Linked DNA regions of Homo sapiens: region 2 is linked to region 1. The links come from fine-mapping of genetic effects on gene expression. A gene starts in region 1. The other region holds a variant in brackets. All regions are shown on one strand. Distances are between the middles of the regions. Region 1 holds the start of SMIM35 (small integral membrane protein 35). Region 2 overlaps SMIM35 (small integral membrane protein 35).

What was found.
Region 2: its variant is fine-mapped to the expression of SMIM35 in whole blood (INTERVAL, PIP above 0.99).

The regions. Positions count from the first base shown.
Region 1 is chr11:118,082,680-118,092,099 of GRCh38, forward strand. It overlaps SMIM35 (small integral membrane protein 35), which reads right to left and starts at 4,284. Exons shown (of 5, transcript NM_001394165.1): 1 at 4,072-4,284. The coding sequence starts at 4,078. The region is part of intron 1 of TMPRSS4 (transmembrane serine protease 4); the gene reads left to right. RefSeq lists a silencer at 515-809.
Region 2 is chr11:118,059,965-118,069,384 of GRCh38, forward strand. The region is part of intron 1 of SMIM35 (small integral membrane protein 35); the gene reads right to left. It also overlaps the pseudogene RN7SL828P. Among named protein-coding and RNA genes, the nearest start is that of TMPRSS4, 12 kb to the right of the region's middle. RefSeq lists an enhancer at 4,628-5,129. The variant C/T (reference allele first, on the strand shown) is at 5,269.

The sequences.
Region 1 (9,420 bases):
ACTAAACTAAAGTTTCATACCCAATGCTGCTCAGGGAAAAAAAAACCCAAATTACCAGGAGACCATTAACGATAGAAAATTGATTTAAAGAGAGAATATTATAAGTGGATCAGGCCTAGGACTAATCCTATCTGTGGGAGGAGACAAGAGAAATTTCAGGCTGAGAGTGAGCTCTTCAGAATCACAGACCCTAAGGAAAAACCTTAGAGGTCTTCTCGGCGAGTGGGTTCCCCAAGCGTACTTTGACCTCAGAGCCTTTAGCTCCACTGAAATCAAATGCAGAATCCTCGTATGGGACACAGAGAGAAAAACAGAGCTGCAGTGTTTGAAAGGACTGTCCCCCACCCCCGCCACTTCTGCCCTGCCTCCCTCTCCTCTGCTGCGCCGCTGCGGGGCTCGGTCGAATCCCCCAGGGGTGCTCAGAGCCCTTATCTGACCCTGGCCCTCGTCTGCCACAGAAACCTTCACAATCCAGCTTTTGCTCACACATCTGTTTCTAGAAGCTACGGTTGCTGAAAACAATCTTTCCTTTGCCAGGAGAAAAGACTTTCTGTAACTTCCCCCGTTCCTCCTAGAACTGTCTTTTGCCTTTCTCAGACGGCCACACACACTTGAAGCTTTCATGCTTCCACTGGTCCTTGCTTCTCTGAACTGCGTGTTCCACCCTCTCTTCCGAGAGAGTTCACACAGGTCACACGACATCACCTCCGGTCCCAACTGCCCTGGTCACTGTCCCCAGATGCGCTTAGTCCACAGAGTCCCCTGCTGAAGCCAAGCCCCGGGGCCCATGAAATCATAAAAGTCGCTCTTTGCTCAGTTCCTATTACATACATGACAGGCCCTCTATGAAGCTCCTTCCCATTAACAATAAATAATTTTTGACTATGAGTATCTACTATGTCATGAACTTCCCAAGTTCTATTTTAATATTGTTATTAATAACTAATAAAAATAATAGAATATACTCCATGGGCAAAAGAGCTTTACCTCTGGTTCACTGCTAGGTCTCCAGGGCCCAGAAAGTTGCCTTACTAAATGAGTAAACTATTATTGTTGTTGTTATTATTATTACAGTTAACAATTACTGTACTCTTGGCTGGGTGCAGTGGCTCACACCTGTAATCCCGCTTTGGGAGGCCGAAAAGGGCAGATCACATGAGGTCAGGAGTTCAAGACCAGCCTGGCCAACATGGTGAAAGTACAAAAAATTAGCTGGGCGGTGGTGGCAGACGCCTGTAATCCCAGCTACTCTGGAGGCTGAGCCAGGAGAATCGCTTTTACCTGGGAGGTGGTGGTTGCAGTGAGCCGAGACAGCGCCACTGCACTCCAGCCTGGGCAACAGAGCGAGACTCCATCTCAAAAACAAAACAAAAAAACAATTATCGTACTCTTACCGTGCACCAGGCAATGTACTATATGCTATGCATATCTGGGGCTCCTTAGGAGGGAGACTTACTGCATCTCTCTTTCTCTCTCTCCCTCTTTTTCACACACACATGAAACTGAGTTTCTTGGTGGTTCAATAACTTGCTAAAGCCTCAGGCCAATGAGCAAACAGGATTCAGACCTAGGCTGCAGGATTCCACGGCCTGTGCTCTGTGCACTGTAAAACACAACCTCTCCTAGCAAATGTAATTTCAGCAAGGAAAAACTTCATGAAGCACTCGACGAGTTATGTGAGTGGGCAGGAAAGCAGTAAAGGAACTTCAGGTTATGCAACTGCAAAGTCAGAGAGGCAGAGAAGACACTGAAGCACTATTAAAGCACTATTTATAGGATCCTGAGCTCAGAGTTCACAGGAAACAGATCTAGGAGTCACTGAAACCTGTGCCAGGAGATTGGCTGCAGCAGCCACACCAGCCCAGCAAGGCTGGTTATCACTGGGGCCTCCAGAACAAACGAGAATCCTCAACCCTGCCCCTGTACAGAACCACAGCACAGACCCTCCTTGAACATGTGTGGAGTTCTGCTCTCCATGCCTGTAGGGTAATTGGGGCAGAGAGCACTAATTTTCACTTACTAAACTCCTCTATGTTTCAAGCACCAAGCCAGGCACATCACATGTGTCATCAATAATTCTCACCAACAACCCTGTGAATTAAGTCATATTCTCCCCATTTTACAGATGAGAAAACTGAGACTCAGAAAAATTTATTAACTTGCTCAAGACTTCATGGCTGGGAAGAGGCAGAGCTGGATTCAGGCCAGTGTCCCTGCCTCAGAGTTCAGGAGGAGCAGGATCAAGGGACAACCCCCTTCTGATCAAGGCAGCTGAGACCCCTCAAACTGCAAAGACCAACCTAGGGGACTATGAGCAAGTCTGTAAAATCATGCAAAGACCAGATGGGGCTCCTGGGGGCTTGCAAAGGTGCTGAAAATGTGCACGGTGCTGAGCAGGTGGCGCACCTTACAGAATCTTTCTCCCCATCATCTTGTGAAGTCGCTTTTATTGTACCCACATTCCAAAGAAGGAAACTGGGTCCAGGAGCTGTTTAGTGACTTGCTCAAAAGTTGTTCTACAGATGGAGGAGTCAGATCTTCTTCTTCTTTTTTTTTTTTTTTGAGACAGAGTCTAACACTGTTGCCCTGGCTGGAGTACAGTGGCAGGATCTTGGCTCACTGCAACCTCCGCCTCCCAGGTTCAAGCGATTCTCCTGCCTCAGCCTCCCGAGTAGCTGGGATTACAGGCACCTGCCACCACGCCCAGCTAATTTTTTGTATTTTTAGTAGAGATGGGGTTTCACTATGTTGGCCAGGCTGGTCTCAAACTCCTGGCTGGAGTCAGTCCCAATCAGTTCCTTTTCCCTCCCTGCCATTTCCCTCCCTCTTAAAGTTTAAAGGACAACTCAGGACAAGCAAAAGTGAGTACGATTCTTGAAAGATGGTATAAACTCTGTCTTTGAACCTTTTTAAATTAACGTCAGACTGCTCCATGGATGGCAGGTCCTCAGTTCAGGTAAATTGCAAGGTTGAGAGAACCCCTCTAAGCTTTAAAATCCATCAGCCCTTCCCAATGGCAAACCCATGAGGGTCCCTGCCAGGCTGAAAGGCTGAACTGTGTGGCGGGACCCCTTCTGGCCCTCTCGAGTCCCCTCCAGCCATTGTCCAGGCATTGTCCTCAGGTGTGCAAAGATGGTGGCACCTTCCTTCCTATCAGACCCTTCCAGGAGGGGAAGGTGGGCTCAGATGGACCCACCACTCTGGAACAGAGGGAAAGCTGAGCAAAGTAGAGCTGTTGAGAGTTCAGAAAGGTGGGAGAGAATGGGCTGCTTCCCCTAGGACAAAGAGAAGGATCGCAGAGGGATTCCTAAGCACTGCAGTAAACAGCAGCATCACCTGGAAGCAGGGCCCTCCAGTGGGAACCAGGTCTGTCTTCAGTTTAATTTAGCCCAAGGGGCATGTACAAATACCTCACTCCTGCCCTTCACATTGTCTCTGGGGAAAAAGCATAAGCGCTGTGCCTCAGTTTCTCCATTTGTGAAATAGGAATAGTTACATCTTCCCTGCCTCCCCAGCCCTATCTGAACCTAAGAGCTATGCCCGAACACAAAAGCTGATTCTTAAATGATGGGAGCTGAACAGCAGGCTGGCAGGGGATAATGGCAGGCTGCCTGACTCCTCCCTTCTGCCCCAGGCCCTGCCCTGGAGCCATTATGTGCTGAGATGGGGGATGAGGTGCTCGGCTCAAATTGCCAATAGGTCAGCACCTATGTGGTTTAGAACAAGGCAAAATGGTTTCTAATGTAGCAGCCAAGGCTGAGGTTAGACCCAAAGGAAAAAGTGCTGCTCTAATAATGACTCAACGCAAGGCAGTGTTTGTGAGGATGCTCCCTGAATTTCTGCGTGAGAGCTTAGATGCCCAGCGGCATATGGCCTGGGCTGGTGGCCGACCTGCCTAGAGACAGAGTAACAGGTGCGATCCCAGGATACTTGGAAGTCGGCATGATCAGTCATCTCTGAGGACCTCCCATGCACTCTGGGCTGCTGCATCACCACCAGGCTCATCTCAGGAAACTCACTCCCTCCTCTCCTGCCCCATGATCTTCCAGCCCTCAGTGACCCTCTCCTTACCTGTCATGGCTGAGACATCCAAGAGAGAGAGCCCTGTTGCCAGCGCAGCAAAGGCATCAAACTGCCTATTCCAGCTGCAAGTGGAGAGGACACAGCTGCTTGCCGTTGGTTTTGGGGAGGGATGCAGGTTCTGGGGTCAGAGAGCAGAGTGAGGCTCCCTCAGAGGAGCACTGTGGCCGGGCCCCACTCTGCAAGCTGACGGCAAGCACCTCTGGGTCTCTTGGCTTACCCGAAGAACTTTCCCCACCCCCTCCCTTGGGTTTTCCCCACTGCTTATTACTGGCCTCAGCAACCTAACTGCCACCTGCCCAAGCCTCAAAGGACCTGTTTATCCCATCACCTAGCAACAGCACCATCTCTGGCTCTAGGTTTTCCTATGAGACCATGGGAAGCCAGGGCCTTGGACTCCAGGGAAGACTGAAGCTGTCACCCTCTTTTGTGTGCCCCTGCTTTTCTCTCTTTGTCCACACTCCAGTCATTCCAGCTCTGCCCTTACTGACTTCTTTCCAGAGCAAGTCAATGCCAAGTCAGCATTGCAGAGAGGAAGAGAGAAATCAGGCCCCAGGGACAGGATGCTTGGCAAGGGAGGCAGACAGGAGCTGGCCGAGCTTTCTGTTCCTTTGGCCTCCTTGAGCTGCCGCCTCTTCTTCCTCTCCTTATTAGCCTGGTGGACTTGCCTGTTTCATTATGAGGTTATTAACTCTTTCATCCCATCTCTGAAGGGCAGTTCCCAATTACCCAAAGGGATCTTGAGGTTCAGAGACATTGAGGAGTGTGCCCAAAGCCACACAGCAAGTCAGAAGACAAGGCAAGATGAGAACTCATACTCTCCAGGCTGGTGGCTTCTCTGCAGCACACTTTGTGGCTTCTCTGCAGCCACTTAAGCTTCACTCCATTTAAAAACAAGAGCTGCCTTGTATCTGGGTTCATTCTCTCTGAGCTGGAAAGGAAGTTGACCTTAAGATGTCTGTTTGCTTTTTGGAGCTGAGCTAAGCCCAACCAGGAGGTTCCCCATGATCTAAAACAGTGGTAGGGGTGGGGAATAGGAATAAAGGAAGAAGAGGCAGGTGAGAAAGGTGGGAACTTATGGAAGAAAGGGAAGAACAAATGCTAATATCAATAAAGCCCCTCCTGGGAACCAAGCCCTGCAATAGGCCCCTTTCCCAACATGCTCTTTGAGGTCTCTTGACCGCATTCATGGATGATATGGCAGAGCCCAGAACTGAGCAAAGTCACTCTACCTTCACACCGAGGAAGAGCTGGAGAGATGCTGGGGGCAATCTCTGCATGATGACTGCATGCTGGTTATATCCAACAAGGCTGCATTGCAAGGGAGGAGTGATTCAAAAGGACCCAGCACCAGCTAATGACTGTTACCGAAATGAGTTCCTGAAACCATGGGGAAATGAAATCAACAGTCCACCAAGTCCAGAAACCCGGCCCAAAGGGCTAGATCTGTTCCTTACTTGCTCCGAAGCCATAGCAGCTGCCTTTTCTGTAAAATGGGGACAATTTCTCAGGGTTGTTCCATGGATTATATAGGACAGCATTTATGAAAGAAAGACATCGTAAATTATATAATAATACTCAACTGCAATAACTAATGGTTCTGCCTCCATATTTGGGTCTTGGATTAATGTCTTCCTCTGCCGGTGACAAACCGAGAAGCAGGAAAAGAAGATTCTCTGAGTTGATCAGGCAATGGCAGGTTTTCCAGTGATTGAACACCCACCCACTTCCACCTCCCCACCTCACCCGCTACCTGGGCCCTGGGGGCCTGGGCATTCTTGCCCTTCCACTGTACTGCACACAGCAGGAGCTTCATTCCCGGATGAGCCCCAGGTCAGACACTGGCTGGGCTGGACCCATGAGTCAGGGCTCTGCGGCAGACTGAATCAACAGAGAAGACAGGCCTGGCCCAGCCAGTGGCCCAAACAGAAAGGGAAAGGCCAATGCCTTTGCTTGGTCTGGGCTGGGCCGGGGCTGTAACAGTTGTAGGCAGAAGCTGAGTTCAAGCTGGGGGTAAATAAATACATCTCCAGCAAAGCAGAAGGAAGCACATGTGTTGTTTGGTGACCTCTCAACTTCCTCCTTCCCTCTATTAACTCCAGGTTAAGACAATTCTATCCGACCTCTGTTTTCTCATCTGAAAATAAGGAAGTTGCCTTGTTTCAGCTTTGCATCTTCTGATCATGGCGGGGACCCACCATGGTGATGGGGTCTGGCTGGATCTCTGAATTTTACCTGGTACCCACATCTCTCAGACCCATTCTCTCCTTTCCTTAGCTCAGGATTGTTGCTTCTGGGCTCAGAGGAGATGCAGCTGGCCATAAGTCCCTATTTCTATCCTGCTCAGGGATGTCATCGACATTGATGGCCCCCAGTTGACACTCACAGGCCTAAAATGCACCTACCTCCCTGCCCATGAGCCCCAGTACTCGTGACCTTCTGCAGCTCCTCTTCCAAAGGTGTATCTGTCCATCAGCTCTGACCTGTCTGTGTCACAGATATTTGCCAAAGAGCTTCAAGAAAAGCCAAAGAATGAGCTACTCATGGGGAAACTCAGGCAGCACAACAGTAAGGGCAGAGCATGGTGAGGACATGAGTTTGACCTCCTCAAGCCACTCAGCATAGCCAGGTGATGGCTTTTTTATGTTTTCCTTGAGCCTTGGGTGCATAGCATTGGGGGAACTAGAATCCTTGCTTCATGACTTTTTTCACTATTGGTCCATGCAGGGCCCATTTGTAACTTGCTAGTTAGTTGGATTTAACAATGTAATAAGCCTCCATAAACCCATCATCCCCAACAAAAGCTGGACTTAATAGTAACCTACATCTAACCATGAGGTTCCCACTCCTGCACACACATATCCATCCCTCTCCTGAGGTGGGTAGAGCAAGTGTCTTTCGTTTATTAATTCGACAAATATTGGCTATACATATTTGATAGGCAGGGACTGTACTACAAGCTCCCTGCCCAAGTAAGTTCTTCCCAAACCCCATATTCATCATTCCCTTGCTTCTCTATAGAAAAGATTCTGTGCTATATGTAATCTTTTGGGACTAAGTTTTTCCCTTAATATTACATTCTAATATCATCCTTATTATTATTTTGAGATGGAGTGTTGCTCTGTCCCCCAGGCTGGAGTGCTGTGGCACCATCTCACTCACTGCAACCTCCCCTCCCGGGTTCAAGGGATTCTCCTGCCTCAGCCTTCTGAGTAGCTGGGATTACAGGCGCGTGCCACCACACCTGGCTAATCTTTGTATTTTTAGTAGAGACAGGGTTTCACCATGTTGGCCAGGCTGGTCTCGAACTCCTGACGTCAGATCCACCCGCCTCAGCCTCCCAAAGTGCTGGGATTACAGGTGTAAGCCACCGTACCTGGCCCCATCCATATTATTTTGTGTCACTACAGTTCATTTGTTTTGACTGCAGCCTAATATGTCACTGTGTGAATATACCAGTCAGGTTCGTAAAGACTGAGCTGAGGCTGAGTCCTCAAACTGAGATATTTTCATTAATTCTTTCATTCAACAAATATTTTTTCAATACTCATTATGTACTGTGCATTGTAGGAGACATCAGGGATATCACAGTTAACAAGATAGTCACAGTCCCTGTCATTCTAGCTTACGGTTTTGCTTTAGTTTATTTTTTCTTTCTCTCTTTTGGTTTCAAACAGGGATAGAATTTTTTTCCACAACTACTACTCAGTGAATAGCAATTGAAAACATATTAAGAGCCAGGCATTGTGGCTCACACCTGTAATCCCAGAACTTTGGGAGGCTGCGGTGGGCAGATCATTTGAGTCCAGGAGTTCGAGACCAGCCTGGGCAATACAGTGATACCTCATCTCTACGAAAAAAAAAAAAAAATAGCTGGGCGTGATGGTGCATGCCTGTAGTCCCAGCTACTCAGGAGACTGAGGTGGGAGGAGCCCTTGAGCGCAGGAGGTGGAGGCTGCAGTGAGCTGAAATCACAACATTGCACTTCAGCCTGGGCGACAGAATGAGACTCTGTCTCTCTCTCTTTCTTTCTCTCTCACTCTGTCACACACACACACACAAACACACACACACACACACACACACACAAAATTAGCCACTGTTCAGTTCAGTGATGAGGAATCCAAGGCCCCAGAAAGTGCAGAATATAAGCCTCCTTTGTGCCTCAGCTTCTAGCACTATTCCGGGTCCATCAAAGTTGTATAGTCAATATTTGTTAAATTAACAATAAACAAAAGAAACTTGCCCTACCTACCTCAATGAATGCAGGCATGCATGCACAGGTAGACTCAGTGGAAAAGAATGAATTGACAGGAAAGGGCCCACTTCCCTGCTCCACCAACCACTCTTATAGCCTCCCACAGCTCAGCAAGCACCCTCTCACCCACGTAACTAAAACCCAAGCACACCCAATCCATCGGCGAGGCCTATTGTTTGTATCTTCCAAACACATTTGGCGTCTTTTTACCACCAACCTCCTCTCTCCTTATGCCCTTGCCTTGCTCCAGCCATGCCCATCTCTATTCAGTTCCTCCAACCCCCCAAGCTTGTTCCTTCCCACTTGGCTCCTTCTTGTCACCTCCTCTAGGGAGACCAGCAAGATCCTCCGTAACCATCCTGAGCCCCTCCCTAGAGCTCCCATTCTCAGTCTGCATCCAGGCGCTGTCTCCTCTCACCCTGGATTACTCCCTGCATAGCACCTACCCCTCTCTGATCTTTTCTGGTTTATCTGTTTATGGCCTGTCCTCCCCCTTCCCCTAGCCCTCCTCTCCACCAAGAAACAAGCTTCTTGGGGACAGACCCTCGGCTGTCTTCTTTGGGCACTATTTTCCCCATCTTGCTGGGATGATTTCTTGATCTGTCTTTGAATCCTCCTGGAGTAGTGCCTGGTACAATGTAGATGCTTTACAAGCATTTGTTTAGTTTAATAATTAATTCTTTAATGCTGCCCATCCTGGTTGGCAGACAATTGATATCGACTTGACTAGACAAGAGTTAGATGAAAGGACTTTGTAAACTGTTACATGCCAGTTGGGTGTGAATTACTGTTGACGTTATCCTAACTTGACTCTAGCTGCAACAATGCAGAGTCGTCCGATTGGGTCTCATCTTCAGCCTGGAAAGAGTCTGCTCTATCCAGCCCTGGTGATGGTGGAGGAGAGACGGCCGGGAATGAACTACAATGCAGAGCTCAAAGTTCAGTCCAGTTCACAGTCATTTATTAAGTTTTTACTAGGTACTAGCCTGGTGCTAAACAGCAAGGGTACAAAGGCAATGAGAAAGAGTGGCTAATTAAAAATAAAATGTTAAATTTAAAAAAGCAACCAAAAAGAAAGAAAA
Region 2 (9,420 bases), 23 kb before region 1:
TTTTATCTCATAGCCTTGAGCCTGGGAGTGAGTGGAGGCTGTACTGCCCTGGCAGACACACCTGCAGACCCACCTGTGAGGGCCCAGGAGGAGAGGAGTCTGAGTGGGGTGCCAGGAGGCAGCCAGGGCTGTGCCCAAGCCCAGTCCCTTTATCAAAACCCAATTCCCGCGCTCTAGGGGCTCCCTCAAGCCGTATCTACTCACATGCCTCTCCTCCAGGTCCCCCACCCATGTGGCCTGCCTAGAGTCTCTGCCCAGAGCCCAGACCACTCCCCATCCCACCACCTCTCAGGTGAACGGGGATGGGGTAGGAGGCTGTGGTCTTTCTCCCCTGACAAGAGTCTCAGCCCCACTTCCCATGCTGTGAGTGTGAGCACCCACTCCCACCTCCCCACACACCTCTTGCAATTATAATAGCTCTTGGTGCTAATGAAAGTGCTGGGAAATACAAAATCAGGTCTACTGGCATCGGAAGGCATGAGTCAGGGTTTTGCTGCAGTCTGTTTCGATTCAGCCTTTTCTTCCCAGGCCGGCAGCGAGGGCAGGACAGGGGCCAGGCAGCCCTGGGAAGCCTTAGTGGTGGAAACCCAGGGACAGCTGCCATGCTCACCTGGGAGACTGTCCTTGGCCGCCTTTCTTCTAGGCTTAGCATCCTGTGTTCCTCTGGACCCCCGGGGGTCTGGGAGAGCAACTGCAAATGGCTGTCTGGGACCCCCTTCTACAGAGTCCAGGGTGTCCCTCTGGCTGTTCCCCTCGCCACCCCTTCCTCTAATTCCCTGCCAGCTCCAGGTTCCCTGGAATGCTGGTTCTAATCTGGCTTCCAAGTCTCTCTTACCAGCCAGACATGGGTACTCCCATCATCCCTCCCACATGGCTGCCCTCATCCTTTGGATCCCCAGGCAGACACCCACCCTGGCCCCCTTTTAATTTTCCTTTTTTGATCTATAAGTAAGAGAGGGACAGAGAAAGCACTTCCAGGCTGCCCCTCTCCAGCCCTGTGACCTCACATCACAGTGTCCTGGTTGCAGGTTGAGGAACTCCAGTGGGAGGCGTCCAGGCCAGCAGAGGCTCCCAGAGGCACCGCTTCTGCTGAGTCACCCATTCTAGCATATGGTCGTGGCCCTGCTTGTTCCAAAACGGGACACCTTGCACTGCCACTCGTGACAGACACATGACACCCACAGTGGGAGTGATTGAGAGGCTATAGACAGGCCAAGGCGCAAGCCCAGCATCATTTTCAACCCCGCCTCTTCCAAGAAGGGAGGTGATTAAGACTCCAAGCTTCAGCTGCAGAGAGACCCAGCTTCAAACCCCAGTTCTGAGAGTGTTTCCCTGTAGGTGAAATGGAGAAAATAATGCCCACCTCACAAGATTGAAAAGATTGGATGATCGATTCACAGAAGGCATTTAGCAAGTTCTCCCTCAATAAGTGGCATTTCTAGCTACTTTTATGCCAATGTATTACATTTTTTAAGTAGTAAATTATTTCAGGGACTAGAGTGGCAGGTCCCCAGCTGGAGCTACCTTCTTCTTGGCATTAGTGCTCCAGGGAAGCAGAATCAGTAACTAAGTTACCAGACGAACACCGTCGGATCAAAGGAAGTGGGAGGGGTGGGGGATACTTCACCTGAGCCCTGGGAAAACCTCACAGATCCTGCTGGCCTCCACAGAGGCAACCTCTGTTAAGCAGAACCTGCTTATGTTCCCCACAGCCCTTCCTGCGACCTGGGCTGCTGGACACCGATTAGCTTGGATCTACGGGGCCCATTTCCTCTGCACCCAGGACCGCTCTTTGGTGACTCTTTCACTAGATATGATGCTAGACAGAGCCAGCATCAAGCCTCTGTCCCCATTATGAGTTGACTTCACAAAACCAACCCTCCCTGCTCAAGGGATTCCCACTTTTGCAGCCCACAGCAAAAGCATTGGCGTGTAAGTAACAATGCCACCTACCACATGGGGCAGAACCCCACCAACTGCCTCGGTCCAAGTTCATTACAACTCAGTCTCCCCTTGGAATTGGAAGGTCCTTGACCTCCCACCAACTAAGCTTCCAATTTTGTTTCATCAAAAATGAAAGTGGGGCCAGGTGCAGTGGCTCATCCTTGTAATCCCATCCCTTTAGGAGGCCAAGGCAGGTGGATCACCTGAGGTCAGGAGTTCAAGACCAGCTTGGCCAACATGGCGAAATCCCATCTCTACCAAAAATACAAAAATTAGCTGGGCGTGGTGGTGAGTGCCTGTAATCCCAGCTACTTGGGAGGCCGAGGCAGGAGAATCACTTGAACCCTGGTGGTGGAGGTTGCAGTGAGCCAAGACTGTGCCATTGCACCCCAGCCTGGGCAACAGAGCGAGACTCCATCTCAAAAACAAACAAACAAAAGTGGGTCAAGAGAGGCACCCCTGAGCTAATACATCAAGTCAGGCTTCCCTTCAGTTCACAGGGGCCAAGACCACAGGCCAGCCCAGCTCCTCTCCAGGCCCTGCTGGAAGGCTCCTTCCCGGCCAAAGCAAAGGTGACAACTGCCTCTGATGCTTCTCAAAGACCAGCTGGGAGTCAACAATGGAGACAGGTGGTTCACTTGGGCTCTGGCTTCTTCCATTTGCAACGGAGAACAGGGCATGTGGATGGGGAAAGAAGGAACCCAGGACAAGGGCTTCATCCCTCCCAACCCTCTCCTGGCCCTCCCTCCACACCCCTGCACCCTTGCCTTCTTTGTGTCTCTGAGTTTCTGCCTCTTCGTTGACTTCCATCTGTTTTTCTGTTGCCTCTTTTATTTTCTCTCTCTCTTAATTCTGTCAGAGGCATGTGAATCACAGCAATTCCAGCTTGAATAGGAGCTGGGTAAAATAAGGCTGAAACCTACTGGGCTGCATTCCCAGACAGTTAAGGTATTCTAAGTCACAGGAAGAGATAGGAGGTCAACACATGATACAGGTCATAAAGACCTTGCTGATAAAACAGGTTGCAGTAAAGGAGCTGGCCAAAACCCACCAAGACCAAGATGGCGACAAGAGTGACCTCTGGTCGTCCTCACTGCTGCACTCCCACCAGCGCCAAGACGGTTTACAAATGCCATGGCAAAGTCAGGAAGGTATCCTATTTGGTCTAAAAAGAAGAGGCATGAATAATCCACCCCTTGTTTAGCATATCATCAAGAAATAACCATAAAAATAGGCAACCAGCAGCCCTCGGGGCTGCTCTGTCTATGGAGTAGCCATTCTTTTATTCCTTTAGTTTCTTAATAAACTTGCTTTCCCTTTGCACCGCAGACTTGCCCTGAATTCTTTCTTGGGTGAGATCCAAGAACCCCCTCTTGGGGTCTGGATGGGGACCCCTTTCCTATAACACTTCTACTCTTCTTTCTGTTTCTTTCAGTTGATGATTTTCTGCTTACCTTTCTACTCTTTCTGTTTACTGTCTCTCTCGTCTGCATTTTTCTGTCTTTATTTCTAAATCTTCTTTACCCTCTTCATGTTGAATCTTTTTGCCTATTGTGGTAAATATATTTGGTCCTCAGCCCCATTTCCTGGCATACAACTCCTAAAGTCCTTAGAAACTCCAAAGGTTGTCTTTTTGTGTGCTAATGAGCTGACTGAGGCCTGGAAGGGCCTAGGTGGCTTCAGGTAGATCAGGGGCTGATCACCAGAAAGCCCAAGGCAGGATTAGAAGGTTGGGTTTTAAGCCCCACCCCTAAACTTAGGGGAGGGGAGAGGGGCTGGAGGGTAAGTTGATCACCAATGGCCCGTGGCTTAATTAATCATGCTTATGTAACGAAGTCTCCATAAAAGCCTAAAAAAGGACAGGTAGCTGAACAGGTGGAGGTTTCCAGAAGGGGACCCGACTCGGGAGGGCATGAAAGCCCCGTGTCCCTTACCCCATATCTCACCCTACGTATCTCTTCTTCTGTATCATTCGTAATATCCTTTATAGTAAACCTGTAAAGGTAAGTGTTCTCCTAAGTTCTCTGAGTCACTCCAGCAAATGAGGGAGTTGTGGGAACCCCAAATGAAGAACAATTGGCTAGAAGGTCCAGAGGCCTAGATTTGTAACTGGTGGGAAGGGAGTTGCGGTCTTGTGGCACTGAGCCCTCATCAACCATAGGATCTGTTGCTATCTGGTAGATAGTGTGGGAATTGAGTTGACTCGAAGTGTCAGCCAGTGTCTGCTGCAGAAATGATTGCTTACTGGTGTGTGGGGAGAACCCCCAGGCATTTGGTCACAGAAGTCTATTGCGTTGATGATTGTGGCGTGAGAACCAAGGGGAAAATTGAGTTTGAGTTTTTTCCTAACACACCAATCTATATCACTCTTCTTTTCTCTTGCAAAGAAAAAATTTTAAATGGGAGATCAGATAGGCACCAATCTGCCATTGATTTCATACACTGTGTTCCCCATCCACATGGACCCCAAGGTCCCACCGGAGGTTCAGGTTGGCGGTTCTGGGTGTCATCCTCAGAGTCATCACTAATACTAAAGGGTTTTGTTTGTTTTCTTTTTAAGAGAAGAAATCTCCCTATGTTGCCCAGGCTGGCTTCAAATTCCTGGGCTCAGGATATCCTCTTCCCTCAGCCTCCTGAGTAGCTGGGACTACAGGCATGTGCCATCGTGCCTGGCTTTTGTTATTGTTATTTGTCTGTTTTTTCAGGGGTGGAGATTTTTTGTTGTTTTTTTCATCACTATTATTATTATTATTGAGACAGGTTCTCGCTTTGTTGCCTAGGCTGGAGTGCAGTGGCAAGATCTTGGCTCACTGCAACCTCTACTTCCCGGGTCCGAGCCATCCTCCTACCTCAGCCTCCCAAGTAGCTGGGACTACAGGCATGTGCCACCACGCCTGGCTACTTTTTGTAATTTTTAGTAGAGATAGGGTTTCGCTATATCACCCAAGCTGGTCTCATATTTCTAGACTCAAGCGATATACCCGCCTGGCGGAATTGTGCTGGGATTACAGGCGTGAGCCACCATGCCCAGCCTTCATCACTAATATTAAACGCTAGCCTTCTCTGGGTCAAGCCCCGAGTGGGCTCTGAGTCAAGCACACCCTGCCCTGGAGTGATCCAGATATCCCAACTCAGAAATGACCAGATAAGGCCAGAATGCATATTCCTGTCCTAAAGCGTGGCCCTGTAGAGCCCTTCTGCGTGGTCAAACACCCGTCCCTCCCCAGCCTAGGCAGCTGCACAGCGCCCAAACCTGCCCTGCCCCACCTGCTTCTCCACTGCATTTCACTTTGCTTATCTCAGCATCCGATTACAGCAAGGACA[C/T]TCCCAGCCTAATCTGGCTTTCCCAAAGCTTTGGCCTAGAGCACCGTGAAGAGGTAGCCTTGTCACGTCCATGATGGCTCACAGGAGGAGGAAGACAGGGTACCTGCATTTTGAGTGGTTTTGCAAAAGTGAAATATAGAGAGTGATCATGAGGCAGGAGAATAGGGCCTGGAGGCAGGGAACCTAAGGCCAATTCATACTGACTTCCTAGAACTAAATCAAAAGGAAAACCCCAACTTTCACACCTTCCGTCGCTGGCCAACTTTTCTTTTGCATAGGAGTATAACTTTGTAACTTCACTTTAGCCTCTGGTCACTTTCCACAGGCGAATCAGACATTTGCATAGGGTGTAACTTTGTAACTTCACTTCAATCTCTGGTTGGTCTCTCTCCACAACCAATCAGACTGATTGTGGTCCTCTACTTCATTTACATAGGGTGTACACTAAGTAATCAATGGGAAACCTCTAGAGGGTATTTAAGCCCCAGAAAATTCTGTACCCAGTCCCTTGAGCTTCTTGTTCAGCCCACTCCCACCCTGTGGAGTGTGCTTTTGTTTTCATTAAATCTCTGCTTTTGTTGCTTCATTATTTTCTTGCTTTGTGCGTTTTGTCCAATTCTTTGTTCGAAGCACAAAGAATCAGGACACCCTCCACTGGTAACAATCAGGGTCTGATACCTGGGATGCAGCACCCAGTGACCAGGCTAGAATCAGGAGGTCTGGACAGAGGACACCATTACTGCCTGATTTACTCATCATGACCATGACCCAGCCCGCTCGCTCACCTGGGCCCTGCTGGGGAAGAGGGGGCTGCAGCCCCAAACCAGCCACAGGACCCCCCGGACGTACGACCTCCACCCAGGGCTCTCCCTGGCACCTCTGACTCAAACTGTTCAGTCCCAGACTCTTCACCTTTCTCCCCAAACCCACCTCTGTTTGCCACCTTGGTAGGTGGTACTATTATTTGCCTAATCCCCCAGACACCTGGAAATACCCCGGGATTGGATCTCTTCGCCCTTGTTTTCCAAATCTAGTCAGTCACCAAGTCCAACGTGCATGTGAAATTGCTCTGCCCTCCTGGCTGCCCTACCCTGGGTTTGGGATCTCATCTCTCACCTGGACCGCTGCATGAGTTCCCTACTATTCTCTCTACCCCAGGCTCTCCATCCACACAGCTACCAGAATGATCTTTCAAAATAAAACAAAAACAAACAAGTCATCCTCCTGCTTAAACTCCTACTGGCTCCTTATTACCTAGAGCTGTGGTCTCCAAAGTTCTTTGATCTCTGTCAGTAACAAAAGAATTTTAGCACACATCTCTAATATATGTATTTATGTATAAATTATATTTACATACATTACCATCACTAGCCAATATCTGAAGGCATAATACACCCTGAAAGACAGAGTAGTACTAACATCAGGAGACTTGAGACTATACTTCAAATTATCTTAGCCGGGCATGGTGGCATGCCTGAGTCCCAGCTACTCAGGAGGCAAAAGGATCACTTGAACTGAGGAGATCAAGACTGCAGTGAGTCGTGATCCTGCCACTGCACTCCAGCCTGGGTGACAGAGTGAGACCTTGACTTAAAAAAAAAAAAATCAAAACATTATCTTGATAATTCTGGATTTTTTTTTTTGCCAGTTTCTATCAAGTAAAATGAGATTGTTACAATTTTACACTCAAGATAGAAAGATAATGGGAGCCCCTTCCGAATAGGGGAGCAAGAGCCTGGCCATTTGCTTGTGCTTGCCTGCATCCTTCTCTTAATCCCTGATATCTTTTCAGGAAATTTCCTAAATACCTTGTCCATTGTGTGAGGATTAATTTAGTTAAAACCAGATGAGATCACCGAGAAATCCACTTCACAGACCATGTGTAAACATGTCACAATATGCTAACCCCCTCAGACCCTCGCAGATGCGCACAACATGTGGGCCATTGACACAGGGTCCAAGTGCAGACACGAGGCCAACCTGTACATTAAATATTACAAATGCACCAGGTGCGGTGGCACGTGCCTGTAGTCACAGCTACTCGGGAGGCTGAGGCAGGAAGATCATTTGAGTCCTCACTTGAGTTCTGGGCCTCGGTTTGCTATGCTCATCAGGTGTCCACACTAAGTTCAGCATCAATATGGTGACCTCTTAGGAGCAGGGGGCCACCTGGTTGCCTAAGGTAGGGTGAACTGGCCCAGGTGGGAAATGGAGCACCTCAAAACTCCCGTGCTGATCAGTAGTAGGATCATGCCTGTGAATAGCCACTGCACTCCAGCCTGGGCAGCATAGCGATACCCTGTCTCTTAAAAAAAAATTGGCTGGGTGCAGTGACTCATGCCTGTAATCCCAGCACTTTGGGAGACCAAGGCAGGCGGATCACCTGAGGTCAGGAGTTCAAGACCAGCCTGGCCAAGATGGTGAAACCCCGTCTCTACTAAAAATACAAAAAATTAGCCAGGTGTGGTGGTGCGCCTATAGTTCAACTTCTCGGGAGGCTGAGGTGGGAGAATCGCTTGAACCCGGGAGATGGAGGTTGCAGTGAGCCGAGATCACGCCATTGCACTCCAGCTTGGGCAACAGGAGTGAAACTCCATCTCAAAAAACAACCACAAAACAACAACAAACATATATATATATATATATATATATATATATATATATATATATATATGAAAAGTTTAGTTGTTTTCTTTGTTTTTAGTTAAGAAATACACAGAAATAGAAGTTTCTCTATTTTTTCGCTATCCCAATGGTTTGTCTTGCATAATTTCTGGGTACAAGAACTCTAGTTTAGGGGCTTCCAGTACATAAGGTCTGTGTCCAAATTCCTTACCTGTGTACAGATCCTTCAAAAGAAAATGTCTATTGCAAGAGTTTCTCATAACTGGAGCCATGTATGATTCATCTCCCCGGTCCCAGCACCAAGCTGCCACAGAAAGGATGCTCAGTATCTGTGGGTCAGTCACCATTTCCCCAGCGCACACAGCCTCCTCTCTGGACTGGATGCTCTTCCTCCCATTGCACCCCTGGTTTTCCACCTGACAAAGTCCTGCTCCTCCCCGTAAGCTCAATCCAAATGCTCCCTCCTCGGGGAGGGAGCCCTCCGGCTCTGTGTGCTCTTTCCTCTTAGAGTTTGCCAACAGGATGACAGCACGATCTCTGTGTCGAGTCTCCCTCCCGGCCTGTGAAAGAGCTGCGGACAGCGCCTTATTCATCTTTGTGTCCTCAGTGTCCAGCACACTAGAGGCGCTCGTAAACGTTGGATGAAGGAGAGGCTTTTACAGAGACGGGGGTGAGGCCAAGAGACAGTCTGGGCCCAAAGATTTCAGTTTCAAGAACTTTCATTCTCAGCCTGAACCCACCCCTCTGCAGGCAGCCTGGGGAATGAGCTGGGGCAAGGATGAAGGAGGGAGGCTGAGGGAGGGTGAGCCAGGATGGTACCTGCATGTGGAACCTCACAGCGCTGTTTCCTGCTGGCCTTTCAGGCTGCAGATGAAATCTACTGGGAAAAGCGAGAAACCCGGGGTAGCGGAGTGACCTTCCACCACCTGGCGGCACTGTGTCTGCATTCTCGGCCACCCCACAGAGGCCCAGCGGCATCCAGGAGCCGTGGTCTCTCCCCACGCATCACTCCGTGGCCAGAAGCACTCAGTCAAGCCAGAGCCACCAGCATTATCAATACATTATCATCCGTGGGATTTGGCAAGGCCTAACCACGACGATCTAAAAGCATTCTCTCTTCCAACAGGTTCAACCCAAAGAACTCATTTGTTAACGGACCACCATTGACTCATCACCCTAATGGAAAACTGAATCATCCCCAGGTCTTCCCCCCGTCAGTCCTCTCTATTCTGCATCAGCAGCATCTGTGAATGCCAGCACCCCAGCATCCCACACTGCACCTGTGCTCTGGGTCTGCCTGCCAAGTACAGGCTGTGAGGTATCGGGCCACCCCCTCAGTTCCCTCATCTGTAAGATGGGAACATCAACACTTTGTTTGCAAGGTTATTAGATATCTTATATATGCACAACACAGAGTAGAATGTCAGTAAATAATATTCGTCTTCCTTTTCTTCGTCTTCATGCCGGTAGACCAGGCCTTAATTAAGATCTTCTCCATCTCTTGCCTGAACTATTGGCACTGTCTCT